3 separate regions of the Homo sapiens genome follow, and regions 2 and 3 are each linked to region 1. Evidence: fine-mapped expression QTL. A gene starts in region 1. Each other region holds a variant in brackets. All regions are shown on one strand. Distances are between the middles of the regions. Region 1 holds the start of HS3ST1 (heparan sulfate-glucosamine 3-sulfotransferase 1). Region 2 overlaps HS3ST1 (heparan sulfate-glucosamine 3-sulfotransferase 1). Region 3 has its middle 51 kb from the start of HS3ST1.

Evidence for each region. PIP is the estimated chance that this variant, and not a neighbour inherited with it, causes the effect.
Region 2: its variant is the best candidate, but not a certain one, in a credible set for the expression of HS3ST1 in cerebellar hemisphere (GTEx, PIP 0.75).
Region 3: its variant is the best candidate, but not a certain one, in a credible set for the expression of HS3ST1 in esophagus mucosa (GTEx, PIP 0.51).

Annotation. Positions count from the first base shown.
Region 1 is chr4:11,424,960-11,435,377 of GRCh38, forward strand. HS3ST1 (heparan sulfate-glucosamine 3-sulfotransferase 1) reads right to left here and starts at 3,935. Exons shown (of 2, transcript NM_005114.4): 1 at 3,740-3,935. RefSeq lists an enhancer at 3,591-3,810 and a silencer at 3,901-4,080.
Region 2 is chr4:11,390,980-11,401,397 of GRCh38, forward strand. HS3ST1 (heparan sulfate-glucosamine 3-sulfotransferase 1) reads right to left here. Exons shown (of 2, transcript NM_005114.4): 2 at 2,171-9,134. The coding sequence starts at 9,026. The coding sequence ends at 8,103. Among named protein-coding and RNA genes, the nearest start is that of MIR572, 27 kb to the left of the region's middle. RefSeq lists an enhancer at 5,806-7,005. The variant TA/T (reference allele first, on the strand shown) is at 5,072.
Region 3 is chr4:11,474,190-11,484,607 of GRCh38, forward strand. No RefSeq gene overlaps it. Among named protein-coding and RNA genes, the nearest start is that of HS3ST1, 51 kb to the left of the region's middle. The variant C/G (reference allele first, on the strand shown) is at 3,995.

The sequences.
Region 1 (10,418 bases):
AGAGGGCACTACAAGCACGACTGTAGAGTGGAATAAGAACAGACAGGCCTGAATTCTAGTCTGGAATCCTTTGTACCTTTAGAAAATTAATTAAGTTTTCCGATCGGCAGATTCCAAATCCTTAAAATAGAAATGACGCCATCTGCTCTCCAAGGTTGCTGTGAAGATTCAGTCCAATCACTCATTCAATTATTCCAAATATACTTATTGAATGTCTAAGTGCCAGGCAGGCACTGAGTTAGGTTCTGGAGACACGTTTGGAACAACACCTAAAATGCAATGATGAGGAGCCAGTGCATTATGCTGATGAAAGATTCAGACAAGGGGGACCCGGGTCATCTCGTGACACTGGTCATGTTTTACTTTTCCCCAGTGGAGTCACTCCCCATTTGTGACTTTTCTCCTTTTTTAAAAAAATTATTAATTAACATCAGGGCCCTCTCTTCAAACAGATTTTCTTAAGACATGTAATGTGTATTATGTTAAAAGGAAAAACACTCTAAAAATTGACTGTGATCCTGAAAACAAGAAAGGAATCATTCTGAGAAGTAGTGAGGCCCGGTGCTTGTAGCATTCAGGTGGAGTGATCACAAGAAGAGACTGGCCAATTAAAAGAAATCTCTCCCACTTAATGTTTAGCATATGTCATTTACTCAGACATATGCAAACTATGATTAAAATGAACATTAAAATAGATCTACGATAAAACTTAATTTTTTGTATTTTTTACCCTTTACAATTGCACAAGTGTTCTCCAATCGGCAAGATGCATTTCATATACATTTTCTCACTTTCTTATAATAATCTTTTCATCACTGTTTTGCAGAGGAAGAAATTTAGGGTCAGGGAGGGAGAAATTGTTGCCCAAGGTCATGGGGCAAGAAGTTGGCTTTAAATCCAGCTAGCACTCTCCTGCCTTCTGCCATAAGAAAAGAGCAGCCTCAATTGAAAGCACCAGGTCAAGTAGCCAGGTTGAGGGGAAAAAAACTGGGAATAGCCCTGATATTTTCCAGCACTAGCTGGAAAGTTACTGCATTTCCCTGGAAGCTGCTAAAAAGTTACCACTCTCCTGCAACAACTGTCTCTAACACAGGGACCCAGGCTTAGATGCAGGCCCGGAAACCTGGTGCCTGAGCACTGACCCAGCCTACAGGCTCAATTTCATCAGGACACCAGATACATCTTACTGTGCCTTCCTCCAAACTTTAGCCCCCATAGACAGACATGATTTAGCAACCACGGTGGGGATATGCCATTGTGGGTAGCTGCTATGTTCTCAGAAAGGCAGTGTGCATGAGTGAAGCAATTTACACCACCCAGGCCATCTTTCTAGCCCCTTCCTAGTCACCATCGAGTTTCAATTCAAGGCAAGAGAAGCTTCCATGTGGCTTTTCCCTTCAGAGGCCCCCCCCCCAACCCTCACAAGATTTTTCCAGTAAAATAATTTCTTATTTTAATAAGAAAAGTACATGCTCCAACTTTTAGGGGGACCCAGGGGGGGGGCTTGAGGCTTCATTCTAGACATAACCACAGGAAAGTAAAGAACCCTTTGCTTTTTCCGATGCCATCTCAAGATGCCAATTTCTCACCAGCTTCTCAGAACAAAAATCTCCTATCTTAAAACTACAGAGCATTGTATACCCTGTGGCATCACAGAGGATCCACAGTCTAGAAGCACAGCTTAATAAGCCTCACTAAGGAATCTTCATCTATGCTGCTGTTGTAATTAACTGCTTCCACTTAAGAGTGCTTAGTCATGAAGTTGTCCATCCCTGTCAAACTCAGCTGAAAGAGTTAGATGGGCTAACCAAAACCTGGAAAGACTCTTTTAGAAGCTGTTCTTTCTCTGCTTAGCGCTGGAGAAAACCTTATGTAACACAATGGTCCATTTCAATATGTTATTTCTGCAATCCTGTGGGGGAAAATCTAAGCGCTGGATGTACAACGGGAAGGGTAAGGCAGGGATTTGCAGCGGAGCGCGCGTCTCCTGGAATTTCAGTAGGTAAGGCTTATTCTAATTGCACCCAGTGTTACCCAATATTACCAGGAATGCAGAAAGCAAGAAAAAAATCCGAACGTCAAAGGATGCGCTTTGCTTTAGAAATGCAGGGAGGCAGAAGTTGGGTTATTTCTCCCTCCTTTTTTTTTCTTTTTTTTTTAAAGATGGAATTCCTGGAATTAACCCTTGGGTGGAAGCATTTCAACAAAATAAAATGAGATTTGCCTGCAAAGCGAGAACGCACGGGTGGGAATGAAGGATCCTGCCTGTGCCAGGCTGCTGCCTCAGCAGTGTCCAAGCACCCAGCGCCTGAAAGCGGGAGCGTGGGGACTCGTCTGGGGACCCTCTTCCGGGGCTACTGGCGGGAGGCGCAGCCGAGCTGGTGGTGGCGGGGTTTCCCTCCGGGGCTAGGGCTGAGGGAGGAGAAGAGGGCGGACTGGCTCCTTCCGTTCTCGGCCACCCTCCCCGCCACTCCTTGAGGCTGCTCCATGCTAACAGGAGACTGTTTCTCGGAGCGCAGCGCAAAGACAGTGGATTTGGAGTGGCCTCCCTAGAATCCCCCCAAAAGCATCTTGGCACAAGTTGTAGATAAAAATAGCTCATGATAACATTGTGGGAAAGGGAGGAGCGAGACTCGCGCAAGGCGAGGCAAGGGTACCACTGGATCTGCAAAGGAGGAGGAAGAGGGAGGATGCAACCCTTGGCCCAAGAGAGCGCCCTGAGTGTGCGAGGAATCGCTGGCTCCCAGGGGAGGGAAAGAGATGGAAGACCTATAGCGCCTATAACTGCAGAGTTATAGACCTATAACTGCAGAGCCCAGCACACCCCATCCCGCGCCGGCACCCGGCTTTGGCTCCAGCTTCTTCTTCCCATCATCCGCCTACGTTCTGGGTCTGTCCTCCGCTTCCTGGGACAGGCTGGGGCTAGAAGGAGGAGCAGCGCGCCGTCCGCCCCCTGGCTGGTAGAGCGCACCTGGAGAGGTCAAGCTCCGCGAATAAGACCCTTCCTGGGAGCTGGGGTCTAGGCGTTCCAACCGCGGGTTCGCACCCCGCCATCCCTCACCTCCATCCGCTGCCACTACCCAAGGGCCCGGAAATAGAAAACCACGAAGGGGGAAAAAAATCAGTAAAAAGTAACAAGAAAAAAATCAAGACCCTCATGTAATTGGCATTAGGGATGAGAGGTTTATTGTCAGGGCTGTCACCTCAATCTCTCTCTTTGGGAGATGCCTATCTCCAACCAAATGCAAAGGCAAACCCGACCAAGGCTTCTCCACCCCCAAAGGCTCCCTCAGCCGAGTTACTTTTGCGGGCTGTGTCCTCGCCCCAGTTTCTGGCCCCAGGTGGTACCCAGGATCCGTTGAGTGCTGCGCTCTCGCTGCCCTACAGGGTCCTATGGTGAAGCTGCGGTCGCGAAGCGGCCGGCAGGAGCGAACCTCACGACTCTGCAGGGGGGGAAAACATCCAACCCAGTAAGAGTCAGAAATCTGGGTCCCTGTCCTTACAGATCAACCGGTCCCTCGGGACTTCCAGAGCAGAGGTGCTAGGGCAGGAGGTGAGGAGGATGGGAAAATCCCCAGCCTTTGCTTCCTGGTTCCCTCTGCATCCACTCCACCTGCTCCAGCCTCGATTCTTCTTAGGTTCTGCACTTGCCCGAAGTCCAGAACGCCAGACAAAGGCACCTCGGAGCCCTCTACACCTGCGTCCTGCCACTCTCCCACCCCGCGCGCGCCGCACTCACCTGAGCCGCGCCTCTGTCCAGCCCGTCCGGCGCCCTAAATAGGCTCCTAGGCTGGGCCATGGGCAGCACTGCCGAGCACCCGCGGCGGGTAGAGCAAGTTTCTGGATGGCCCGGGGCAGGCGGGCGGGGAGAAGGCGCAGGCACCCACTGAGACCCGGCTGTCGTGGCGGCGACTCCTGGCTGCCAGGGCGCAGAGGACCTTGCAGGCGGGCGTTTTGGTGCTCAATCCCGAGGAGGGGGAGGAGCGGGAGGAGGAGCGGGAGCAAAAGGAGGGGACGGAGGAGGCCGGGCCCGGAGGGAGAGCGCGTTGGGCAGAGGAGGATCGCGAGCGCCCACTGCTGCCCGGCCCGCTCGGGTGCCGCCCAGAGTCCGGCCCGCTAGGTGCCTGGTGCTCCGCTCTGCGCTCAGCTGCTCCGCACAGCCCCGCCTGGCACGCAGCTCCAGCGGCTGGTCGGGTAGTAGTCGGTCCCGCCCACCCGGTGCGGTGGCCCCTGGGGTTTCAGTCCAAGGGGAGGGACCAGCGCTCCAAGAAGGTGAGGCTGCTGGGATGGGTGACTCCGCCGTCACTGCAAACACGGGACGTCCCGTCTACTCCCTTACGCCTGCTTGGTCTGAGCCCGAGTCTACCTCTTCTCTAAGTCGCCAGCTCGGCACTTGTACCCGGGACCTGTGCTCCTCCCACGTGAGTCTGCACCATGCGTATTCCCTTCCTGGCAGGTGACCCACCTTAGGCGCTGGCGCTCCTTCCGCCCCCCGGGAAGCAGGAGGTGCCATCCTCTCCAATTCGCTCTGCAGCCGGACTGGGACCGGAGCGGCGGCCTGGGCCAGAATCCGCGTGAGGAGCCGGCTTCAAAGAGCGCCCTGTCGCCATTGAACACTCCTTTTCCTTTGGTTTAGCGTCGGAGAGCGGACGCCAATTTGCCAGGAGAGCGCGGAAAATTCAGCTTTTTTTTTTTTTTTTTTTTTTTTTTTTTTCCGCTAGTGCACTAGGATTGCAAACGTCAGCTCTGAAATAAAAAGCAGGATATTTCTGCCCCGCTCCTCTATTCCGGAAGCTGGGAGGTTCTGTGGGAGAAAGGACCTGCACCCAATAACTCAATTTAAGATTTAAGGTTTTGAGGGGCGTGGGGTTGGAATCGCCTTGGAGAAACGGGTTTGCCTGCTTACCTGAGCCAAAGGAAGTTGCCCTCAAAGGCAGGTCAGCAATCATACCCCGCCAAAAGCAAATGCACATCAAAGTAACTTCCTTTAAATGAGATTACTGTAGTTTCCATGTCTTCCACATTAGTAAATAAATATTTGGAAGACTTCGAATTTGTGATTTACGTTTAAATATATTTCACCAACATTGTTTAATTAAAAAAAAATCCCATCTAAGAGAAGGTTCCTATAGGAAATTGGCCCTTTAACTCATACACAGATTACCCTCGGCACTTTCAGAAAACAACACAGTGACCAGTATATTCTGTCTTTTTGATACAGCCAGAAGCACCCTGAAAGCTGAGACCTAACTGTGCTTTTGGAAAATAAGCTTTTAGGAGTTGAATGACCTTGTCTACTTCTTTTAGTCAGAATAATGTTGGCATGTCTATTTTAGGTTAAAAAAAAATACAAATTCTAAAAAGTGACTTTAAAGGCCCACTTTGAAAGCCTTAGCATTTAAACTAACATTAGATTTAAAAGAAGGGCTTTTCTCCCCCATTATAGGAAGCTGTGTAAAATCATGTGTGAGGTTGTGAGGGTCAAATGGAAGTCTAAGATAAAGTTCTGCCAATTACTGGTGTCTTTAAGCTTCCACCAGCAGCCAAGCACAGTGCAGATCATGAGTCCTTCAAAATACGGGGTGGTTTTAATGCTCTAAGTTGGTATGATTACTTTTTCTAAAGAGCTCAAAGTGCTTTGGTGCCATAGTATGAATTTCATTACCCATTGTGAGACACAAAGGGGGTTAGCAATGATTCTGTTTGCACCCTGGAAGCCAAAGGCAGGTTACTCACCCACTTAGTTCCCTACCACAAGACCTTGAAAGAAACTGGAACCCCAGGTCTCCAGCCCAGAGATTTTGTTGGAAGTTTCCATTTGCAGGAAATGACTGCAGGGCACATGTGGGAAGTGACAGGAATTTGAGGACTAACATTTTAGTTTTCCTCATTTCTTTTTAAATCTGAGCAATTGTTCATTGATCGATAATCTATGTTCTTACATTCAGATAAATAAAAACACCAACTGGCTATTTTGTTCTTACTTAGTTTTATGTGTATGTCCAGGCATTTGCCACTGCTCCTAAATAGCTCTCCCTGAAGTCTTCTGGTCATGAGTTAGGTTTCTTATCCAGAAGCTCATGTAGTGCCAGAGCTTAGCTCTCCTATGACAACACAATCACATTATTGAAACATCTATTTAGGGATCTGTCTTCTCTAATAGATTATAAACGCCTTGAGCTTGGGTATCGTGATTTAATGATGAATCCTCCATGGTATCTGAATCCCAGAATCCTACAATCCTGCATGGTATCTGAAACATACTATGCTCTTAAAAAAAAAAAAAAAAAACTTTGTAAATGGAACTTCCCTCAAGGAGTCAGGGTTTAAGTCAAACATGTTTCCCTTTCAAAGCCGTGGGCATGAGAATAGAGGCTGTTAGGAGACACAGTAGTAGTTGACTGCAAAAGTGTCTGTCAGTCAGTTGTGTGGCCCAAGACTCTTTTTATCAGTTCCAACAACTGAAAAATGAGAGGGTTTTAGTGGAAGATCTCTGTACTGCTAATATTTTAAGATCTCGAAGTCTTTATTGAGCACCTAGTATGTGTACAACACTATGCCAGTTACTAAGAGAGAGATGAAAAAATAAGATATCTCCATTGCCCTAAGAGAGCATAAAATCTTATCTCAAGGAAAAACAAGGCAAACACTCCTAGCCTACCTTTACAGACACGCACAGACATGAGTTAACACAGTTGTAAACTGTTCTAAAGAAGATAAAGGCTCAAGGAGTGAAAAGGCATGAAATAGAAACAAAAGCAACTGACCTATGAGTTTGGGCAATAATCAGTAATAATACCAGCTAAAGTGTATCTAAGGCTTATAGTGCCAGGTACTATGCAAAATGAATCATAGGAGCTGCACCTTTTGTTCATTTTACAAATGGGGAAACGGAGGTTTAGGAGAGTTTAGTGACTCGTTCAAGGTGACATACTAATAAGTGGTAGGGCTGATATTCAAAGAGTTCTCACCTGACTCCAAAGTGCATCTTCTCAACCAATATTAGAGATTATTAGCCCAGACTTCCCTATTTTATAATTGAGGGATTTCATTAGAGCACTAGAGGAGGAAGCTACCCTTCCAGTAAAAACTAGACTCCTAGTCTAGTGCTCTATGTAATTAAGTAATATGCTTATGTTTGCTATTTTTCTGGTTTTTCTCTTTCCCACAAAATATGTAATAGGAGACGGGAGGTCAGGAAAAGGGGAGAGAGAGAAAAAGAGAGAAGTTGCTTCTTTTGAAGATGTCCAGAATCCACAGTAGTCTACCTGCTCAGACTCAATGGGGTTTTATTTGTAACCCCCAGTCTAGTGGGCAGCCCTGTATAGCCTTTCTTCCCATCATGGCTGTTTGAATCTTTCAGGTTAATAGCATGAATATTAAAGACTCCAGTGGGACTCTTTATCCACAAAGGAAATTGGGATCAGGTTAAAAATCCAATTTTAATAAACTTTCCAAGTCCTGATTTAGATGAGGTACTAATGGCTCTTACTGCTGAATCACCTTAAAAGTCAAATGTATTTTTAAAAGGGAAGCTTGTTGGGTATTGTTTAATTGTGCATTGCACATTCCTGTCTTAATAGAAAAAGATCATCTGTAAAACTTATGAGAGCAGATAGGAAATGCCACTATCCACAGAGCCAGTTGGGTAGAGGGAAGGGCGTTGGGTTTGAAAGATAATTTTCACTCGTTTGACCAAAACAAAGAGAGCATGATTGCACTGTGTGAAAATGATATCCTCGAATAACTCCACTAATTTGATTGTGCTGAGGTCTAGAATTGTTTCTATTTCTTTTGATTTGCTAATTAGCTAGAGCAGTCCGCTAGTGAGAGGGGAAATGAGGGTCACAGCCATAAAACATGGAGGATTGTTGTTCCTTCCAACTCAGCTCACCCATCTCATGCCTCCCCAACCATCCCGTCCCAACGCCCAATTTTGTCTCTGTGTATGTAACAACAATCCATCCATCTATGACAAATTGAGTGATTCTTTTCTGAAAACAGGATTTTTAAGATTATCTACTTTATGACACCAAATTTGACACATCTTGGCATATGTGGTTATGAGGTCCAGTTATGACTTTTATGATGTTTTCCTTTATGAATCCTGCTCCCTGCCTTGCCAAGTTAAAATTATATCTTATGATTACATTAGTATAAAGGTGAGTATATTTTCTTCTTTATTTAAATATCTTCTTTAATCTAAAAGTTTATCTTTTTCTGATTTTTAGAAGAAATTAAATCATTTTTGGGAAGCCCTCAAGGTACCATAAGCTCTGGGCAGTGTGCCTAAGACTTCTAATGGAGAATTTAGCCCTGTGCAGATGATATTGCAGAGGAGGAATGCTTAGTTAATTTAGGTAAAGTATGCACAGTAAATACAATTTCATAAAAAAGCTTATAGTCTATGGTGTTATGTAAACAACTATAGACAAATAGAATATTGCTTTTATTTGTTATCCTGTGTTAAACTGTGGCCAAAATTACACACATCAGTGTTAGAAAAATTGCAGTATTGCAGGCTTGAAGTGGTCCCCTTGTTCAAATTACTGGCCCCTGCTGAGTGCTGGAATACCTTCAGGGCGATGGAAAATTGTGGCACTCTCTTTGATTTTAGATTTTGGGACCAAAGCTGGCTGATCTTTTGATGAGTCGGTCTTAATGATTTGCTCTTTTAGGCCTTATTCAAGGATACTGGGAACCTCACACTCTTCAGAAAAAAAAAAGTTTTCCTCCTGGCAGGCCTATCAGTTCAGTTGAATCAATATGTATTAGGTACCTCCCATATAGCAGCCTGTGTGCTAGGTACATGGGTAGAGATTTATTAAGAAGAATGAAATTCAATCCCTTACTTAGGAGCTCACAGATGTGCATTAACAGAAAAATTACAATTCAATCTAATCATTCTCATGAGTCCCTAGTTCCATTTGTAATAGAAGGTCCAAGGAGCATTTGAACTGTGACTCTCAGACCCTTACCTCTTACTCTGAACTCTCAACTTCAATCAGCACATGCTGTTTCTAGCAGCTCTCTTCTGTCTTGGAGTCCTCACTGAAGTCCTCTAGAGTATGTCCCTATTGTCCCTGAAAACTGATGGTGCTGGCTTTTCCTTTCAAAGCCTTGTTTTAATTCTAGATTTAAAATAGCACTAATGCCACAAGAAGTCTCTTACACAATGGTAGAGTTCTCTTTCCATAGACTTTGGAACACTGTTCTTTTGGAAATGTTTACAATGACACTTATAAGAACTGGCTATATATATATTAATCTGCTTTGTGGTGGAAATAAATATTTTGTAGAATGCTTTGAAGCTTAGGCAATTAGTTCTTTTTAACAAAAATTAATTTAATTTTCTTTTAAGTTCCAGGATACCTGTGCAGGACATGACATGCAGGTTTGTCATGTAGGTAAACATGTGCCATGGTGGTTTGCTGCACCTGTCGACCCATCACCTAGGTATTAAGCCCCACATGCATTAGCTATTTTTCCTGATGTTCTCCCTCCCTCCACCCCCTTGACAGGCCACAGTGTGTGTTGTTCCCCTCCCTGTGTCCATGAGTTCTCATTGTTCAGCTCCCACTTATAAGTGAGAACATGTGACGTTTGGCTTTCTGTTCCTGTGTTAGTCTGTGGAGGATATTGGCTTCCAGCTCCAACCATGTCTCTGCAAAGGACATGATCTCATTCCTTTTTATGGCTGCATAGTATTCCATGGTGTATATGTACCAGCAGTTAGTTCTTAAATTAAAAAAAAAAGCTTTCATATTTAATCAAGTTAGGTTATTTCAATATATGCACCATAATGATTATTGTAAAGTAAGTTCTGTAAACTAAGGAAAAATAACTATTTTGTGCAATCTCAGAAAAATCTACTAGATGGTATGGGAAACAAGAAAGAGAAATGAAGAGGCAAATAAAAACATGGCATTTATTGAGTAGCTGTATGCTGGGAGATTTGAACATTCTCCTTTCCTTTCCCCTAATTTTACGTACAGAGAAGTAACTTCTTGAAGGTTGTATGTTCCAGCTTGCAACTAGCCATGTTGGATTTAGAAACAGGTCAAAGTCAAGTTCCATGCTTTCTTCCTGTCTCATGATAGCATTCTCTCCCATTCTCTACCTGCACATATATATTTCATAAAACTAGAAAGAGGACTCCACTATATTTTACATCATTTCTTCAAATGAAGAAGAGATCTGAGTTCTTCATACCTTCAACATGTACTTACATTCCAGGAATTTAACTATCCGTAAGGTATTTAAATCCTACATTCATGATATTGTTTTAATTGCCCTGAGTCAACTAATTGACAAAGGAAAATGCTATGCTTAAAAGCTCAGTTCTCAGTGTAATTATTTTTCTCTCCCCACATATAATCATCCTTTAAATATAAAAGCTATTATAGAGATGCAGTTTC
Region 2 (10,418 bases), 34 kb before region 1:
TAGTTCTGAGTTCTCCCTTGGATTCTGCTGCTACCTACATTACTTTACTCCTCCAGATCTCAAATCCTTCTATAAAAAAAGAAGTTTGGCTAAAATGACCGGTATGTTCCCTTTCAACTCTATCAGCTGATGGAGCCGCAGTTGTGTGTATGTGCTTTTTGTTTTTTTTTTTTTTATCTCAAAGGATATAATTAAAATTTGACAATTGTCATCTCTGAATAATCTTGCTGTAAGGCTCTGGTTAATATACAATGGAAATGCATTCCTTGGGTAACAAAAATCCATACATTTCGTTTGTTTTCAAGGGAGCATACAGAAAAGTGAGCATGAGGCAAGATGAATAGACTAGATAATAGAATTACACTTTGAATTAATTACCTATTACCTAACAAATTACTACAAACTTAGCAGCTTAAACCAATATACACCTATTCTCTCAACTTCCCTATGATAGGAGTCCAATCACATCCTACCTCTGCTGTGGCCTTCCCAAGCAGCGATCAAGATTTCAGACAGATGACTTTCTTATCCAGAGCTTGGGGCCCTCTTTCAAGCTCACGTGTTGTTGCAAAAATTTAGTCTTTGAAACTGGAATATTGAGATCTTTGCTTTCTTGTTGGATATTGGCTGGGGACACTCTCAGCTACTACTGGACACTGCAGTCCCTTGCTACATGGCCCTCTCAAAGGCCTCTCACAGCATGGCAGGTGATGCCTTCAAAGCCAGTAGAAGAATCTCCCCAGTGTGCTAAGTTGGAGTCTTACATAACACAATGTCATTATAGCCCATCACCTTTGCCATATAAAGTACTCTAACCAAGAGAGTAAGTGACTCATCTTATTTATAACTTCTGCTCATATTCAAGGCGAGGGGTCTATGCAGGGTTTGTACACAAGTGGGTGGAAACCAAGGGAGCCATTCTAGAATTCTGCCTGCCACAGCCTTTTTTGCTGATATTTATATTAAGTTTCTGGTCTCTATCTTTGCCTTCTTTGTGTTCTAGCTCTTTTTATGAACAAACATGTTGTAGAAGAGATTCTCTTTTGCATTGACAGCATTATAACCTAGAGGTAAAGCATTTTATTTATGAAGAGAACACGCAGGAGATAAATCTGGCTCTACTATTTACTAGCCATGTGACCTTAGGCAAATTACTTAATGTCTCTGTGCTTTGGTTCCCCATCCATATATAAAAGAAGCGAAACAGTAGCATTTGTCTCATAGGTTGATATGAAGGTTAAATGATATAATACCTAGGTTTTAATAAACACATGAGTGTTATTCCTTTACTTTCTGTCGAAGATGATACCAGCCATGAGAGCTAACTAGGAATTAGAAAGACTCACTTTTACATATTTGGAGAGTTTATGAAATTGTGATCTCTTATATGTCCATTGTCCATTTTCCATAAATTGTTCATAGAATCTCTGTGAAGAAGGTATAATTATCCCTATTTTACAGAAAGGTACTGGAAGTTCAGAGAAGTTAAGGAAATTGCCCAAGGTCACATAGCTGTGAAAAAGGCTGAGATAAACTTCTAAATTCATGTCTTCAGAATCCGAGGTCAGCGCTCTTTTCAGTATGCCAACATGAGAAAGTGGTATTAGACCTGTTCATTATGGCACTGTGTGGTAGAACTCAGATGCATGAGAGAAAGCTGGGGGATGTAGGTCGAGGTACAGTAAGTATGAATTTCAATAGCCAGTTTGGAGATATAATGGGTTACCTTGGAGAACTATTCATTGGTTCAATATTCAAGAAGAGGTCATATAGTAAGGCATAGTGAAAAGAGCTTGGGTATTAGGGTGATCTGTTCGATTAATAAATATTTATAGCTCCTATGTCAAGTATGGTTACTATTTGATGTGGATCTAATGGTAAACAAACACAGGAAGCTTGAATTGATTATTTCCCCTGAGGTTTGTGAAGATTACATAAAACAGCTTATTTTAAAGTACCTACCAGTGTCTGGGCCAGAAAGGCTACTTCCAGGAGGCGGGCCAGATCATGAGGCTGCGATGTGGTAGAAGGGGCTTTCGCGTAAAACTGACAACTAGTCTAGAGTTACCCTTCAATCCACAAACAAGTATTAATACTCCTTACTTACCATGTACCAGGCACTGTGTTAAGTGCCAGAGGGTTGCAATCAAAAGAAAGAGACATCCATGTATTAGTTCTAAGTGGAATATTTATCAAACAATAGAAATACAAGATGTTGCTACATAAGATGGAGCAATACCTTCATATTTGTTGGGCCCAGAATTGTTTTATGAAGTTGAAATTTAAGTTTGATATTGATGCATTATACTATTTTGGTAGTCCGATAAGCTAATAAAAGAGCCTACTACTTGGTAACAATTTCAGCCATTATTGAATTTAACACTTTGCTATTTGCTAGCCAATAAAATAGACTCATTCTCTGCTATATCTCATTTAATTGGAAGAATTCTAATAACTCCGTGGGTTGATCACGTTATACATGTAAAATACAGAGAGAAGAAAACATGCATGCAAGGTTAAGACTTTAGAGTGGATGGTCTAGAAGCAAAGTCTGAGGGGGGATTCCTGTTTTCTTGGGAAACACATTTACTGAGAATAGGGTAGCAGAAGAAATGAGTAAGGTAATGTGGGAAAAGGATGAAGTTTCGGAAGAAATAAGTAAAAGTACAGTTTCAGGAGAAGTCTAGCCTCAGCCTGATCTCACGAGGAGCTCTGAGCATGAGTTGCACCAGAGGTTGTCCTGCCTGGAGGCAATGAGGGTGGACTGTTACCCTACTACCCCCATGCCCCATCCCACATGGGTCAGTCAATCATTAGTCATGCCCTAACCCTAGGAAAGCAGGGGAGTGGGGTGGACAACATTTCTCAGGCATCTTCAGGTAAGAAAACTCCTGCCAACTAAGAGAAATCCTTCAGAAAATAGTACAGAAGACAATCTTTGTGGCAGCTGGGGTTGAGAGCACTTCCCTGGTAAATGAGCTCTGGATGGAGCATTAACAGCAATAGCTACAGTCACATAGCTGGGAAGCAGAGGAGGAAAAAAGGCAGCGCATTTCTGCCGACTGGTTCAAAACCAGTTTTGGTCTGTCTCCTAAAGTCCCAAATGTTTTTAACCACTAAGTAACATATGCACTGGGTTTATAGTTTTTACCTACTTTATCTCATTGAGTTGGAGTTTTCCCCCAACAGAGTACAGTACATATCTGCCCATTTTTATGGAGAAGGAAATGGAGGTTCTCAGAGTCTGAATCTAAGATCCCATGGTCAGTGATTGGTACAGCTAGGATGCACACCCAGGTCTTCTGGCTCTCTCTCTTTGCTGTTATCTAACTGAGAAATTTGGGCAAAATAGAGTAAAGGTCTTGACATCAGGGATAACTAAAGCACCAAGGTCATTTTCTACATCAAAACACTTTAGTGAAGCAGCTAAATCCGATGATGTCCTCTTTAGCTTTGGCCTTCTCTCACTGTGTGCTGTTTGGAGAACTCTGTTATGTTGCTCTGGCCTTTAACTCAGGCTCAGTCTTCCGAAATGAGCTGCTGCCGGTTAGGAGCATGTTTTATCACGTCCCTGTTGCATCAAATCCCAGCCACTGCTTTGCTTGAAGGTAATCTTGATATCACCCTAACTGTCCAACTCCAAATCCTAGATGCCCATAATTTCCCTTACAGGCTCTGCCTAATAGACAGATGCATATGCTTTATATCTTCCTCCACTTACCCACAAATAGATGGACTGAAAAGGAGCAGAGACATCGGAGACAAAATTTCATTTGTAAGAAGTAATGGCTCTATCAACATGGGCAAGCCCTTTAATTTCTGAGTTTATTTTTCTGTAAAATTAGTAGCCCATTTTCTACTTCCTAGGGTTGTTATATAGGTTAGAAGCAATATATTTAAAATACCAAGCACATGGCAGGTGTGCAACAAATGATAGCTATTTTTATGCAACAGATACACCTGCACAGGAGCCAAATTCACATGGGTGCCTGCTAAGTAAGCTTCCAACACTCCAGCCTTGGAAAGCAGTAGCTTCTCATTGAGTTTAACACATTTGACATGCCACTCAGACAAATCTCTTGCCTACCTCTACCCTCTACCCCCAGCCTCTCCCCGTGACCACTGTCTTCATGTCTCAAGCTTCCCTTGTTCAGAATGCCCTGCTCTGGTGACACTACTGCCATTCGTGCGTGCCCCAGCTTTATGGCAATTCCTCCATGAAGCCTTCCCACAGGAAGGTCAGGGTCTCTGTGGCCCACAAGTTAAGTGACCTGCCCTGACATGCGACCTCTGGGAAGATTCTCTATTTCTTAATATTTCTGAGAAATGACATTCTGGAGAGGGTCTCTGATATTTTTCACCTTCTTTTGTGATTTGTGATGTCAACATTTTCCATTTCTGGACTATTTCCCTGGAGTGAGCAAGAATCCTTTCTTCTGAAAAAAATGACTTGAAGTCAGGATTACTTTTTTATTTTTTTATTATTAATTTATCTTTTTTTTTTTTTTTTTTTTTTGAGATGGAGTCTTGCTCTGTTGCCCAGGCTGGAGTGCAGTGGCATCATCTCGGCCCCCTGCAACCTCCACCTGCCAGGTTCAAGTGGTTCTCTTGCCTCAGTGTCCTGAGTAGCTGGGATTACAGGCACTCGCCACCATGCCTGGCACATTTTTGTATTTTTAGTAGAGATGGGGTTTCACCATGTTGGTCAGGCTGGTCTTGAACTCCTGACCTCGTGATTCACCTGTCTTGGCCTCCCAAAGTGCTGGGATTACAGGCGTGAGCCACTACACCCGGCCAGGACCACTTTTTAAATCTCAGTTTCCTCTTCTCTATAAGGGGGCTAGTTGATTTCTCTCAGGAATGTTGCTGAACTGAATGCCAAACCATGGAACACATTCCCCCACCCATTCTATACACAGCTAAATGTCTTTGCCTTTGTACTCCAAGACCCTCTGTACTTTTATTAAAGTCCAGAACAAACAGTTAATGACTACTGGTTCCTGTTGTATTTTCTTTTTATATTCTTGAGGACTCAATACCATGTTGAGCATGTGGTAGGGGATCAAAAAAG[TA/T]AAATTTTAATGAATAATGGTGACCTGTGACACCACCCCTGTAAGCAGCAGGCACGCTAGGCATCGGCCTCTCCTGCCCTCCATCTCCTTTCAGTTGGGTAAGCCTCCAAGCACAGAAGGAGTAAAGCACCCTGTGCTCAGAGGCATGTCACTTTTCCTAAACTTGCAAACCTTCAGGTTGTGAGCTGATAACCAAATGGTGTTAAAAGGATTTCAACCCTATCTGATTCCAGGAGGAAGGGAAAGGGAAGGGGCTGTTCTGACTCTGGAGTGTCAAGTGTGTGAATATTCCAAATCTAATAGCTGAGGCTTGGTTCAGTTGTTCTCACTTGCCTCTCTGGAAGGACCCACCTAGATCCCCCAGGCTGCTCCCGGGCCGGGGTGGTCTGGACAGGAGACCCACCCCTTCCACTGACACCTGTCTCTGTTAATGGAATTGGTAGAAGGCATGTTTTGGAGGGACCGGGTGCTATTAGGCTCCTGAGTCACTGCATTTTGGCCCTGTAAGGACAGCCCAGGGTCTACTACAGGGCCTCCTTTGAATTTGACAGTGCTTGGTGAGATCTAGCAATAAATACCTTGGGTAAGTCTGGAGTGATGGTTTCTTACACAGTGTACCTTCTCAATGACTGGCTGGGGTTGTACCAAAAATGAATGAACAGATAGTGCCACTAGGACCTCTGATCCCTTGCTCATGGTAGACTCATTTGAACATTCCTTTAGCCACGACTCTGCACCCCCAAATGAAAACATATTGAATTTACATTCACTGATCATTTTACACTGGACCACCGCCTCCATCGACTATGCCAGTCCCAGCAGCTAGATTATATTCCATGTGCTGGTCCTGTCTTCCTCCACTCCTCCCCGCTGCCTCTTGCATCCACAGTTCATGCTTCTACCAGACCATCCCTGTCAGGGGACAGGAATTTACAGGCAGTTTGCAAAGAGCATCTTCTTCAGTCAGAGACTCTCATTGCAGTTTCCTTTCAGTCACCATATTCCTGAACAGGCTTGGAAACTTGACTTAACCTTGCTGGGCCCTCTTATTTCTTCAGCTCTTCAAGGAGTATGGTAAAAGCAAGATCCAACGATGTGCTGCAGAGGGAGGCTCTCTGCCTATTGAAAAGTACCATGTCCACCAGGGGCCTGCTGTAAATATTTCTGCTACTTCCTCTGGGGGAGATGATGGCTTAATGACAACTTCAATGGATTCTAAAGAGGAAGGCATCCTCTCTGCTCTCTGTTCATGATATGGGGTGGGGCATAGGCCATGCTAAGGTCAGGTCAGGCTGGAGCTGCTGAAACGTACCAAGGTGACTCACTTCCCTGATAACACTGCTGAGAAAAATGCAGGCTTCTTCTTGCCCTTCCTGTATCTGGGACACACCTCTTAGGATGGAAGATATTTGGCACCTGGGAAGAAATGTTAAGTCAGGTCAGGAAGAACTGGCTCTGAGTCTGGGCTTTTCCTTTTGAGTTCAGAAAGAGTTGGGTAAAAACTAAATACATAAATAACCTGTGCTTTGGCTCTGAGTAGCCTCTAAGCCTGAGTTTATAGTCAATGTGACCTTGGGCAAGTTTCTCATGTTCTCTGGGCCTAATTCCTCCTCTTTGAAATTTCCATAATAATATCTGCATCCTGGGGTTGCTTGGAGAAATTTCAATGAGTTCTTAAGTGTAGGAGATGATTAATAACGTCCATTTCTGTCATTTTCCTGCGGTATAAACCATGTCAGGAAGCCGGTTTATTTTGCTTGTTTGTATTTTCTCTTTTACTGTAATGAATGTTTTATTTTTATTAAAATCCAATGGGTTTAATTCTGTAAAAGGCTGACTGCATGAAGAATGCATGAAAAAACTGAGGATAAGAAGGGTTTATGTGACCATCTCCAACAAGCTGGCTGCTCAGGGGCAGAAGTAAAACTGAACTCCAGCCACTCCTCTGGGGGCAGGTACAGTGGTTCTCTTAGGTGCTACCTTCAACTCTGCCCTTTTCTCTTTTTAACTTCAACACTTGGGAACTTACTTTTTCTTTCACATTCAGGACTCCAAATTTAGAGTTGATTTTGAAACATACACATATTTATGTCTCAGTGCATATGGAATATATGTCTATAATGCCAATGTGTCTTTCAGGAAGTAAGCAGACTTTCAGACTAAGCAAAAGACTACTACCCTTTTAGTCAGCCTTTCACAGAACCGACAGGATGAAGACACGCATAGATTTCGCAGTTTCTCTTTTCTATTCTAATTGGCTTTCTGGAGGCCAGCTGCCACCTGGGGCAAAGTATCCAGGTCCAAGATCATTCTGAAGGCCAAGGGTTTAATCCTCTTTATTATAACTGCTGAGATCAGAAGCATGTGCAAATATTCTTTGAGGTCAAGATGGATCCCAAGAGACCTCTAGCCAGTCACTAACTGCTTCTCCATCCTGAATATTGCTTTGTTTACTTGAAGTTTACACATGGGAATGAGTAAAACTGTGACCTCCAAAAATGACAAGGAATCGCCGAGGAGATAAATCTTACAATCCAAGTAAAAATAAATCTGATGATCACAATGAGACATTAAAAATTAAAAAGAGCAATGCAGAAAGGAGAGGGGAGAGAGAGGATTGTAATAGCCATGAAAAACATGTTTTTTTAAGTAACAAAAGAATTTAGATTTTGCAATGATTGCAACACAGACAGCTATTTTGAGTTGGGGGCAAGTTAATTATATTCAAAAAAACATAGCGTCTCCAGAAAAAATCTTTTTTTTTTTTTCAGTGAAATAGTTTAGTTCCTTCATATAGAGACATATTACACAATGTTAACAACCATGAAAAACAATACAAAATGCCCTCCATTTAACAAGTAGAAAAATATAACTAGTATATATGGCAATTGTGAATCTAATACTGTACAGAAGTACTTTATGGATTTTACAAATAAATTATACCTTAAATGCTTTTTTAAAATTCTTTTTCCCCTCAGATGTACACCAGAACTTACAGTAGGAAAGTTTCTGAGCTTAGCTTATTGCAAATCAGTGCCAGTCAAATGTTCTGCCAACAAGCTCGAAGAACTTCTTATTTGGCTCATGAAAATATTCGTGCAGTTTATTGAGTAGTTTGGGATCGACTTGGGGGTGCGCCCGGCCTTTGGACTCATGTAAGCAGCGGTCCCGGCCGCTGTCCCGCAGGCAGTAAAAGCCCTTGGTTTTGTTAAAGTAGAAGTTCGAAGCATTGATCTGCGGCGACAGCTTTAGGAACCTCTCGACCTTTTGGATCTCAGGGAAGGGGTCCCTGATGAGGCGGTCGCCGTCCACAATGTGGATGTGGCGCAGCGGGAAAAAGCGCAGCCAGTTCTGCATGTGCACGTGGTAGAGGCTGCGGTTGAGGGCCTTGTAGTCCACATTGAGCCTGCCATCGCGCACCAGGAACTCCTCGATGGACGGGTAGGGCTTGTGCTTCTGCATGTGGTTGTAGAACACTTGGGTGTAGTCAGATAGCACGCGCTCCGACGGGTCTCGCAGGATGAGCAGCAGCCGGATGGACGGGTTCATGCTGTAGACTCGCTCAGGCACTTTGGGCGACGTGAAATACGCGGGGGTCTTCTCCACTGTGAGCTGGTGTGGCCAGGAGAAGGGCATCTGGCTGAGGTACCAGCCCAAGCCGTGGCTGTAATGCTCCTCCCAGTCGAAGAAGTGGACCTCGTTCTCCGCGGCCGCCACGTCGGGGTGCAGGCTGAGCATCTCCAGCAGTGCGCGCGTGCCGCCCTTGCGCACGCCGATGATGATGGTCTGCGGCAACTGCTGGGCAGAGCCGTTTGGGGCCACGCCATCGCGGACGTCATCCTGGAGGGTCCCCGCTTTCCGCAGAAGCTCCTGCTGGCCTAGCTCGGCGGGGCGGGAAGGCACTAGCTGGGGCTGGGCCACCAGCAGCACCGCGCCCAGGAGCAGCGCGGCCATGCTGGACACCACGGTGGCTTCACTGGGCCGCGCGCCGCTGGGTCATGAAGTGCCGCAGCAGGGAAGCCTCCTAGTCAGTGGCACATGGGCGTTTCAGGCCTTCAATTACTAGGGAACAAAAAGGGAAGATATTAACATATAACAAATACAGGGATAATTCAACTAACAACTCTGTAGCCACTCTGTAGTGAGGCCTATATTCACCTCCCCAGGACTCTCAGTTTCTTATCCTATACAGGAGCCGATGGCAAACATTTTCTGCAAAAGTCCAGAGAATAAGTATTTTAGGCTTTAGGGGACATACTTTATGCCAACTCCAACTCCAACCGTGCTATTATAGATGAAATGCAGCCATAGACAACACACAAGGGAATGGGTGTGGTTGTGTTCCAAGAACACTCTATTTATGGGCACTGAGTGAATTTCATATAATTTTCACGTGTCATTAAATATTATTTTCCTTCTTACTATTGTTATTTTTTGCAATCATTTTATATGTTTAGCTGGCTGCATACAACCAGGCCAGGTTTGCCTCCCTAGTCAGAGCATGCTAACCCTTGCTATAAAGGAAAGGGTTGGGAAGACCCTTTGGAACTCAGCAAAAATCAATAAAATATCTACTACTCACCAGTCCCTGGCAAAGGGGCAGGTGATATAGAAGCAGGCTTTGTTCCTGCCCCCACTCTTCCAGCCAGGGGCTCCTAATCTAACAGAGCATGTGAATTAGTATGAAAGATTGCATGATTAGTCCCAATTCTTCACCTTGTGTCCAACTCTTGAATTGGCCTTGCTACTAGCATATGAGCAGATGTGACAACGTATCAGTCCCCAGCCTGGCTGCAAGAGGCCTTGTGTGTTTTTGCTCACCCTCTTTCACTATTGGCTTTGCCATGAGAAGAATATGCCCTGGCTAGCCCATGGTCCCAGAGGGAGGATGAAAGACACACAGAGCCATCCCAGCTCATGAGTGAAGATGCATGATTGTGGTTTTAAGCCCCTGAGTTTTGGAGTGGTTTGTATTGCAGCGGGAAATTGGCAAAAGTTAATTGACGCAGCCTGACTGTAGGCATCAGGGAGATATATGTTATGATTGTAATTTTGGTAGGGTACTATGAAGACACATGTTCATTCATTTTGCCTAAAATAATTGGGGATGGTTTCACAGTGGAGGAAACATTTGAAATAGGCCTGGAGGGATAAACAAGTGAAATTACTACAAAGTGCAAAAAAGCCTTCATTTGTACAAAGCTTTACTATTGATAATGTGGTCTCATACTATATTCAGCTATTGTCACTACAACCCTACACTGTAAGGTAGGAAGGCAAGGCAGATGTCACCGCCATTTTTTTTTTTTTTTTATGGAGTTTTGCTCTTGTTGCTCAGGCTGGAGT
Region 3 (10,418 bases), 49 kb after region 1:
CTCACTCTTCCTTGCAGTGAGGTTGAGGCCAAGTGACTCTTTCTGGCCAATGAGTTGTAAGCACAATGACACATGTTTCTTCCAGGCTGAAGCAATTGCAATCTGGTTTGCTTCTTTCTTCTCTCTGTCCCCATGCTGAAGCAACCTTAGAAGTGACATGTTAAGGAGCTATATTATAAGGTGATGCAAGCCTGGATCCTTGAGTCACTCGAGGGAGGGTCATCCCAGGATCCTAGGCCAACTGCATTAGACTCTGTGTGTGAAAGAAATCAACTTCTGTTGGGCTAAGCCACCATGATTATAAAGTTTATTTGTTACTGCAGGACAACCTAGCCTACCCTAATAGAATGGTGAATCCTTTTAGGTGACAAGTTATCATGGGTGGTGTAAGAAGCTCCTGATTTTGGAGGTCAAGGAGGCTAGATGCCTCTCCTTACCATCATCAAAGTGAAAACTGAATTCCATGACCTCTATGTCTATTTTTAGGCAAATTAAACATAGTCTTGTTATTATTATTTAAGGGGATAAGTGTTAAAAATGAACCTCTTCCTTTTCTTTATTGAAATTTAGTTTAAGCTGAATGAATGAAACTTCCACTGCAAGCAAAGAGGATAGAAGAGTAATCCTCATGAAGCGGCTGTTGTACACTCAGGAGGATATGTTTTAAATAATGTTCCCACAAAAAGCACCTGCAAACATCAGAATCTAAAGGAAAAAAATCACAACAAATGAGATTCAGCCTGATTAGGGAAAATGATTTTCTCTATCACTTTTACACTGCAAGGCCAGGCTTTGTCTGAATCTTATTAATACGAGAGCGATGCCAAGATAACTAAGGCTGATAAAGAATAAATACAATTTGACCGGATTCAGCTACAAATATCAGATGTTTTGAAAGATTATCATAAGTGGCTCAAATTCACTTAATTCTTTTATAAAACAAGTTTTTGTTGGACTATAAAATATTTTCCAATTTCCCTGGATGACAAATGGCAAAAGAGGTTAATTAAAAGTCAACTGAAGACTACTTAGGCACTTAAACATGTAATTTCTTGAGCTTCAAACTTAAATAGCTCAAACTAGTTAAAAAATAGCTTATTATTGTAATTCATGTATTTCCTCTTTAAATATACTTTTCTTAGTTTGATTTAAAATCTTACTAAAAGTTTGAAAAAAAACTAGTCGTTTAATAATCATTCCGTATTTGAAGGAATGAATGAGAATATACATGCAAGCACAGAGAAGGGTACAAGGGTCTCTTGCGATCCTCAGAACACTAATTGCAGGCTTCTCTGTCCCTCTTTACTTATATTTTCTTTCTCACCTCTGTGTCCTCACCCTGGCACCTTTTCTCTCTCTATGTTGGATTATCCAGCTGTTACACATCTGTCAGAATCCTATTACTTCCTCATGACCCAGGTTAAATTGTTCTTCCTCTGAGGTGCTCTTTCAGACTCTCATATTCTCTCTCTTGATTTCCTGTTACATTCTTTGGGCAATTCCCTCTTCATTTCAGGAAGTTTATAATTTTTACTATTTTGTTAATTTTATTTTCATATTTATATTCTGCTATGCACCGAATGCTTGTGTTTTCCCAAGATTTATATATTGAAGCCTAAATGTCAATGTGATGATATTTAGAGGTGGAGTCTTTGAAGAGTAATTAGATCATGAGACTAGAGCCCAGATGTATGGGATTAATGCCCTTTTAAGTGGCTAAAAATGACCAGAAGTCTTTCTCTTTGACGTGTCCTCATGACAATGAGAACATGACCATCTGTAAACCAAGAGGAAAGCATTCACTTTGATCTCAGAACCCCAGCCTCCTGAATTGTGCTAAATAAATGTCTATTGTTTAAGGCACTTTATCTATGGCATTCTGTTAGAGCAGCATGAACTGACTCAAACATAGGCCTTATCTCTTCCTTTTTACTGTGTATTTCCCGGGATTAAGGAGGATACCTAATGCCTTGTACAGCATCCCTTGCTTGGGCTTGGTAGTGGAAGGAAGTATCAAGTTTCCCATATTGTGTCTATTTCAGAATCTATGTTCAGTTCTGTCTCCACTGGCAAGTAACTTTTCCCATAAAGAGAAGGAAGAATAAGCACATACTCCAGCCTAGAAACAAGGTCAATTTTCAAACTCAAGGCCAACTATGGAATTGAATGAGGCAGAGTTGTATGGCCATGAAGACAGATAAATAATTTTAGCTGGGGTTTAAAAGTGATTAGCAGACATTTTCAGAGTATACTGTCAAAAAATAAACACTTCTTTATTAATATTTGAAGTTAACTTTGAACACTTATTAAAGACAAATTGAGGATGTTCTGCAATTAGTAATAGGACTCTGAGAAACTCTACTCATTATGGATAAGCTGTTCATGCAACACAACAAATGAGCCTTGTTTTGCCTTCAAGAATGCCTATCAGAACTTTTAAGACTTGGAGGCCTCATGTTCTCTCAAGGCTCCAAGCCCTTTTACACATTTCTCATCTGCCTGGAGCCACCCTCTCTTTACCAAGGTAACTCCTTTGCCAGGAGTTTTCTTAAAAACAAAAATATCACTGGTACACAAACAGGCACATAGAACAGTAGAACGGAATAAAGAGCCCAGACACAAGGCTGCACACCTACGACCACCTGGTCTTTGACAAAGCTGACAAAACAAACAATGAGGGAACAGACTCCCTATTCGATAAATGTTGCTGAGATAACTGGCTAGCCATACGCAGAAGATTGAAACTGGACCCCTTCCTTATACCATATACAAAAATCAACTCATGTTGTATTAAAAAGTTAAACATAAAACCCAAAACTATAAAAATCCTGGAAGACAACCCAAGCAATACCATCCTGGACATAGGAGTGGGCAAAGACTTCATGACAAAGACACCAAAAGCAATTGCAACAAAAGCAAAAATTGATAAATAGAATGTAATTAAACTTAAGTATTTCTTCAAAGCAAAAGAAACTATCCACAGAGCAAACAGACAACCTACAGAATGGGAGAAAATTTTTGCAAACTATGCGTCTGATAAAGGTCTAATATCCAGCATCCATAAGAAACTTAAACAAATTTACAAGAGAAAAACTAACAACCCCAAATTAAAAGTGGACAAGTGACATGAACAGACACTTTTCAAAAGAAGACATACATGTGGCCAACAAGCATATGAAAAAAGCTCAATATCACTGATCATAAGATAAATGCAAATCAAAACCACAGTGAGATACCATCTCACACCAGTCAGAATGGCTATTATTAAAATGTCAAAAAATAACAGATGCTGACAGCATTGTGGAAAAGAACATTTATACACTGTTGGTGGAATGTAAATTAGTTCAACCATTGTGGAAAGCAGTATGGTGATTACTCAGAGATCTAAAAGCAGAACTACTGTTTGATCCAGTAATCTTATTACTGGGTCTATATCCAGAGGAATACAAATCATTCTACCATAAAGACACATGCACACAAATATTTTTGCAGCACTATTCACAAGAGCAAAGACATGGAATCAACCTATTGTTTATCCATCAGTAACAAATTGGATAAATAAAATATGGTACACATACACCATGGAATACTATGCAGCCATAAAAAAGAATGAGATTATATCATCTTTTGTGGAAACATGAATGGAGCTGGAGACTATTATCCTCTGCAAATGAACACAGGAACAGAAAACCAAATACTACATGTTCTCACTTATAAGTCAAAGCTAAATGGTGGGAACTCATGAATACAAAGAATGGAACAAGAGACACTAGGGTCTACTTGAGAGTGGATGGTGGGAAAAAGGAAAGGAGCAGAAAAAATAACTATTGGGTACTAGGCTTAATACCTTGGTGATTAAATAATCTGTATAACAAACCCCTATGACATGAGTTTACCTGTATAACAAACCTTCATCTATATAAAATAAAACAAGTGAAGGTTTTATTTTATTTATTTTATTTTTTATTTTATTTATTCCTAAAATAAAAGTAAA[C/G]AATTTTATATGGATAAATTATAAAGGCTTACAAATACACTCAAACATACATATGTTTGTGTGTGTATACATATATATATGCATATGTATATTTATGTATATATGTTTTTAATAGCTCTAATTAATTACAATTCAAAGTGGTAATCAATAATTGCAATGCAAGTTTGCTCCAAAGTACACCTGTGAAGATGAAAGGAAAAACTCCATGAATAACTCAAGCTCCTTATTGAACCAGTGTGAAGCATGTATTACTAATATTAAAATAACTTCTAGTAAAAAATTTTACCAGGGTAACTTCACACATCTTCTCAAATGTCACTTCTGCTGGGAAGCAAAGACAGATCTTCTCCCGTCTTTCTTCCCAGCTTCCAGCTAAGTTAGTTGTTTCTCTCATGTGTATCCTGAACTTTCACTATTATAGTGCTTCTTGACTCTAATTCCCTTTTTAATTGCCCCTCTTCTCTGATAAACTATAAACTTTATGAAGGTAGGAACCAAGCCTATCTCTGATAAACTATAAACTTTATGAAGGTAGGAACCAAGCCTATCATCTTGTTAGCTGTTAAATTTCCCTTGCCTAGGACATTGCATTGACATGGTAGACACTGAAAATATCTGTTAAAAAAAATAGAGTTGTCAGTCTTAGGCAATGAAAGAGGAGAAATCCAGGCAAACCAAGCCAGAGTCTTGTCTTTCAATTATCTCTGGCTAAAGTTTCTCACATTATTGAGGAAGAGATTGGCATTTACACTAGAAATCTACTGTACAGTAGTATAGTACAATGCATTTGTTAAAAATATGATAAACTACTTAGAGTTCTAATTTTGTAGATTAAGTTTAGTTACTTTCATCTGCATGGGTTGCTTCATCCTAAAGTTTTCTGTAAAAGAATTTGAACAAATTATTTCATAGAGAGATGCCTGGACTCTGGGGCCCCTACCAAATAATTGCTGTCAAGTTTTGTCCAGAGAATCGACATTACCATTTAAATGTCTACCTTACATATATTCATGACTAGGAATAACTACTAAGGTTAACACAAGCTCGTAGTTGTTGAGTACTTATTATGTGCTGGGCACTGTGTTAAGTAATTTGCATCAATTATCTGAGAGTCATGACCCCTACACCAGGTTGGCACTCTTATCCTAATTTATTAATTTATATACCTGACATTTACTGGGTTCATAACGTGTAAGATATTGAACTCAGCATCAGAGATACAATAGGGAATAAAATAAGTATCAGTTATCCTGGAACTTACATTCTAGTAGAGGAGAGGAGAGAAATGAGAAAAACTGAAAATGCCAATTTTATTAGATACTAAGAATGTTATAAACAAGTGTCAGTAGAGAAGAGAGAAAGAGTTCTAGGGAGTACAATTTTGCATAGAGAGTTCAGGGAAAGTGTCTCAGTCTGTTTGGGCTATTATAACCCATAAACCATGTGGCTTACAAACAACAGACATTTATTTTTAACTGTTCTGGAGGCTGGAGATTCCAAGATGAAGGTGCCAGCATATTCGAAGTCTGGTGAGGGACTCGCATTCTGGTCATAGATAGTGCCTTCTCACTGCCACATGATGGCATCGTCACTGTCCTCACATGGTGGAAGGAACAAAGCAGCTCTCTGGGGCCTCTTTTATAAAGGCACTAATCTCATTCATGAGGGCTCCACCCTCATGACCTAATCACCTCCTAAAATTCCCACCTTCTGATACCATCACCTTGGGGATTAGATTTCAGCATAGGCATTTTGGGGGGACACAGACATTCAGACATAGCAGAAGGCTTCACTTATAGGGTGCATGTGAGCAGAACCCTGAAGGAGATAGGAGAGGGAACCACTCAGATATCTTAGGGAAGAATATTTTAGGCAAAGACAGCAGCATGTGCAAAATTCTGACATGGGAGCATATTGGAGTAGTTAGGGAATAGCAACGAAACCAGTGTGGTTAAAATCAGTGAGTGAACAATAAGCAATTGTGAAGAAGGGGCCAGATCATGTAAGACCTTGTTCGCTATTTTGAGGATTAAGGCTTTATTTTGAGTGACAGATGTTGTTGGAGGATTTTGTGCAGAAAATGATCTGGTTTACATTTTAAAAGGATATTCTGGCTTCTGTAAAGAGGATAGCTTGAGTGGGTAAAGAGAAGAACTAAGAAGTTTAAATAGGAGGCTATTACAATAATCCAGGTAAGAGGGCATGGTGACTTGAAACAGTGTTTTATTGGTGGAGATGATGAGAACTGCTCAGGTTCAGTATGTATTTTTATGTGGAACTCACAGGATTTGCTGATGGATTGGATGTGGGTTATGAGAGAACAAGAGAAATCAAGGATGACACCAGAGTTTTTGCCCTGAGCAACCAGGAATATGGAGTTGCTATCTACTAAAATGCTTAAGATTGAAGGAGGGACATATTTGGGATAAAAGAACAAGAGATCGGACTTGGACTCATTAAGTCTGAGGTTCCTATTAAATATCCAGTGCAGATGATAAGTACGGGTTGGATATATATGTCTGGAGTTCAGCTGACTGCTCAGGCTGGAGACACAAACTTGACAATGCTTAATATAAGAATGGTATTAAAAACCCTAGAAACTGAGTTGACTCATCCAGGAAATGAGAGTTGAAAGAGTAGCAGTTCAAGGACTGAGGCCTAGGGCTGCCCAACATTTAGGTATTGTGTTCATTCAGGGAAGCAGATGCTCAGACACTGTTAGGAGGGCACGAGGCTTCTTGGGACATTTTGCCTGTGAAAGACAAAGGGGAAGGAAGTGGAGTTGCACAAGGAAAGGCTTCAGACCACAAAGCAGATCTGATAGCTTGAAACAGAAGAGTCTGTGGGAGGCAGGATTGGTAGAGTTAGCCTCCAATTTTGATACAGCTCTGATAAGATATTGGCCAACCCAAGGGAAAAGGTGGCATTTTTGCAGAGCCCCACTTTGGATAAACATGGCCAATCCCTAATGCTCTTGCTGTGCTCTGTCCCTGATTAGGGGCTTCTGACAAATCATAGTGTCAGCTTGAAATCTGCAGTAGACCCCAAACACTCTGCAGCTGAAGCCTGGTTGCAAATGACACTGCTTGCAACTAAAAGGCAAGTCTTTTCTTAAATGAAAATCTGAGCAGCACACTTCCTTGGCTGCCACAGATACCACTTGTGGCCATACGGATGCCCCGGCACAGAGAGACTAGGCAGCTAGGCTGAATTCACAGAGAAAGTAGGTGGATTTAAGTTCTGGCAGCCTGATTATGGATGCAGTCCTCTACTGTGCATGTAGGACAATGTCAAATAGTGAATTAAACTTTATTTGACATTGTACCTAGAACTCAGTTAAAGAAGCACTACAATTGGTTTGGGTAGCTGTGTACCAATTTGATAGCTCCCCCTTTTATCTGGCTCTCAAACTTTCTTGGAATGTCTGCCTCTTCTCCTTACCTGATTCACCACAGCCAGCCACACAAACACTACATAGTTGATTCCTGAGCCAAACTCAAAGTATTTGCAGATAACTCAAAAATGTTGCCTCATCAATGAAGCTCTCTCTGGTTCTCTAAGGAACGGTATTCTTGTACTACTCTAAAGCTGCATAGCATTTTATCCTAATTATCATTATTACTTTCTACCTTCCATGATAAATACGTGCCCCATTTCCCTATTCTTCAACATCAGCCCCTCCTCCTGCATTGGCGGACCGAGGGACTCAAGCCCTATTCCTGACCCATTGCAGGCTCCTTCTGCTACTCTGCAGCCACAGGTCTTTATCAATCTTCCCTCCTTTCTCACTCCTTAGGGCCTTTTTCACAAGTTGTTCTTTCTCTTGGAATGACTGCTTCTTCTCCAAGTTTCAGCATGAGATCTCTTCATTGAAAACCTTTCCTCTTCTACCTCCTACTAATTTCATCTAGATGTCTCTCCTCTGTGCTCCTACTCACACTATACTGATGGCATTTAAAGATTTTTGATGATGACCTGAAGTCAGAAATGCCTTTTACAGCATGACCTGGTACACAAACCTGCATATACAGAGCCTCCTATGCAATCAGAACACAGTTGTTTTATCAAACTCTTATATCTTTACTGCAGTATAACGCACCCTGATATATTCTGGCCTATTTTATTCCTTTAGAAAGTGCTGTCTGCAGCCCAGTAAATTGATTTAATGACCTGCCAGTGGGTCTCAACATACAGCATGAAAAACACCACCCTTCATGAGCCTTTGTTAATATACTGGGCTCGCAATGCTGACATCATTAGTATAGTTGTCTATTTCTCCACGCAGGCAGTAAATGCTGAGGGTAGAAATCGTATCTTATTCTTGTTTTTTCTTCTAGTTCAGCACAGGAAATGTCTAAGAAATGAATAAATGAATGCATGCAAGCTCTGAGGTCTTGACAATAACCTACTTCGAGTTTGAAAATGCAGCACCGGAATGTTTGCGTTCGACTTACCAGAAGCTTCTCCCTTGCCTCTTGGCTGTGAACCTCCACAGCGCCCTCCCACAGTATGTCAATGGTGTTGTTGGATCAGCATTCCCCCTATTCTGGAATGTTTTTCTCTTTCTGTTCATTTGTGTTGTTTGCATTGGAGGTACCCCGATCTTAACAGAGCTATTTCTCTGACTTTAGGTGATGACCCAGGGATGGGCACCCAACATAAGGTGAGCCAATTTCTAAACCTGTGACCAGAATGCATGCGAGTCAGTTTCTCTCCAGGCATGGGAAGACAAGTTTTCTGCCACATGGAGGAAGCCAGACCATAGAGTATGATGTAGAGACCACAGAACGAAGGAAAGGTAGAGATAGAGTAGGTATCCTGGCACCATTTCTAAACCCCTGGTTCCAGTTTTTTAATAGCCAGCAGACCCCTACATATTTCCTGTTGGGTGATTCAGCTGTCAAGTGACACAAGATGCTTCCAGTAAGTTCTTTATTCAGTGGAGTTATGGGTCTTAACAATACCACTGGCTTTTGTCAGTTTGATGTAGATTTCTGTCACTGGAGAAAACTAAGTCCAAAATCACACAATCCAAATGTGCCAGAGAAGCGTGTGGCTGGGTAGACAGTGACTTGTGGTTATGACTAAGTCTCTATTCTAGACACCATCATTTCCTCAACTCTATCAGGAAAGAGGCCTAGAATGTTTGCTTGGGAATGCAAATATTCGTTAAACCAAGAGACAGGTCATGGTTGTACCAGAAAAGGCAGAAGGGGCTTTTTGCTTTTCATTTATAAACTAGAATAGGTCGTAAAAATCATTTTACTGAATGAACTCTGGCTTTCTTGCCCTCATTTTTTTAATCCATAAAATCTACATAGTTCTAAGTTTTGTTGTGAAGATTAAATAATATAATAATGTGAAATACGTAGCATTTCACATTCTTGACATGGAGTAATAAATATAGCTCTTCTAATTATTCCTTTTCTTGTAAAAATCATGACATAGTCTTCTAATTTTTAAGTTATTTCTTGTTTCAAAAGTTAATGTCTTAGATAAAGCAGAGATTTCCTGTGCCGCCATCACTCTTGTTATTTAGCGTTCTATTATCATTTGCTGAATCACTAAATCTCCAGTGATTTGCATGTTTGGTTTGGTTAATAAATAGTAAAAATAATGCCACAACAAATTAAGATGGTTTTATTTTTAAAGCAGCCTAGAAAATGGCTGGTCAACAGCCCAACATGGGACTGGATGATAGGCATTTCTCTAGATAAAGCATCTACCACCACTGACCATTACTAACTCAACAAAATTGTCCCACTTTGCCACATAGATATTTAAACAGCTTGTCTTGTCAGGACCTGATGCTGAGCTGTCAGACAAAATTGAGTCTCTGAATTTTGCCATATTTTGTAGTGACCAGAATCTCACTATGAGAGACAGCAGGTTTAAGTGGCAGAATTAGACTTCTCTCTTCAATGTATTTTTCTGGAGAAGTTGAAATTCTACTTCTGAGGCTTGGGACAACCTCTGTAGCCTAAGCCGCTCAGTCTGAGGTTGCTTCAGGGATGGGAAAGTGATCTCAATTCTAGATAATCATAGAGCCCTGCCTGTGCTCTGGCCTCCAAAAAGGCCATGGGTGAAAAGTGGGGTGACAGGGGTAGTTCTTCTCCTTTCTCCATTGTCCACCGGGTCCCCACATATGAAAAATTGGTTCAGAGAATGGTATTCAGAATCAAGATGGAGAACCACAAAGGAAGTTAAATGTAAGCTAGACGCTGTTTTTCAATGGGCAGAGATGGGGCTCTCTGGGCTACATGACCTCGGGAAATGGGGATAATCAAAATTGCCTGTGAAGTTTTTGTCAAATTATCAAAACCCCTTTATAGGAGACTATCAGAGTAAATTTGGATCAGAAAAGCTCTGAGACTATTCTGTTTGCAATTTAAAAAACCTGATGATTTTAACATACCACTATCAC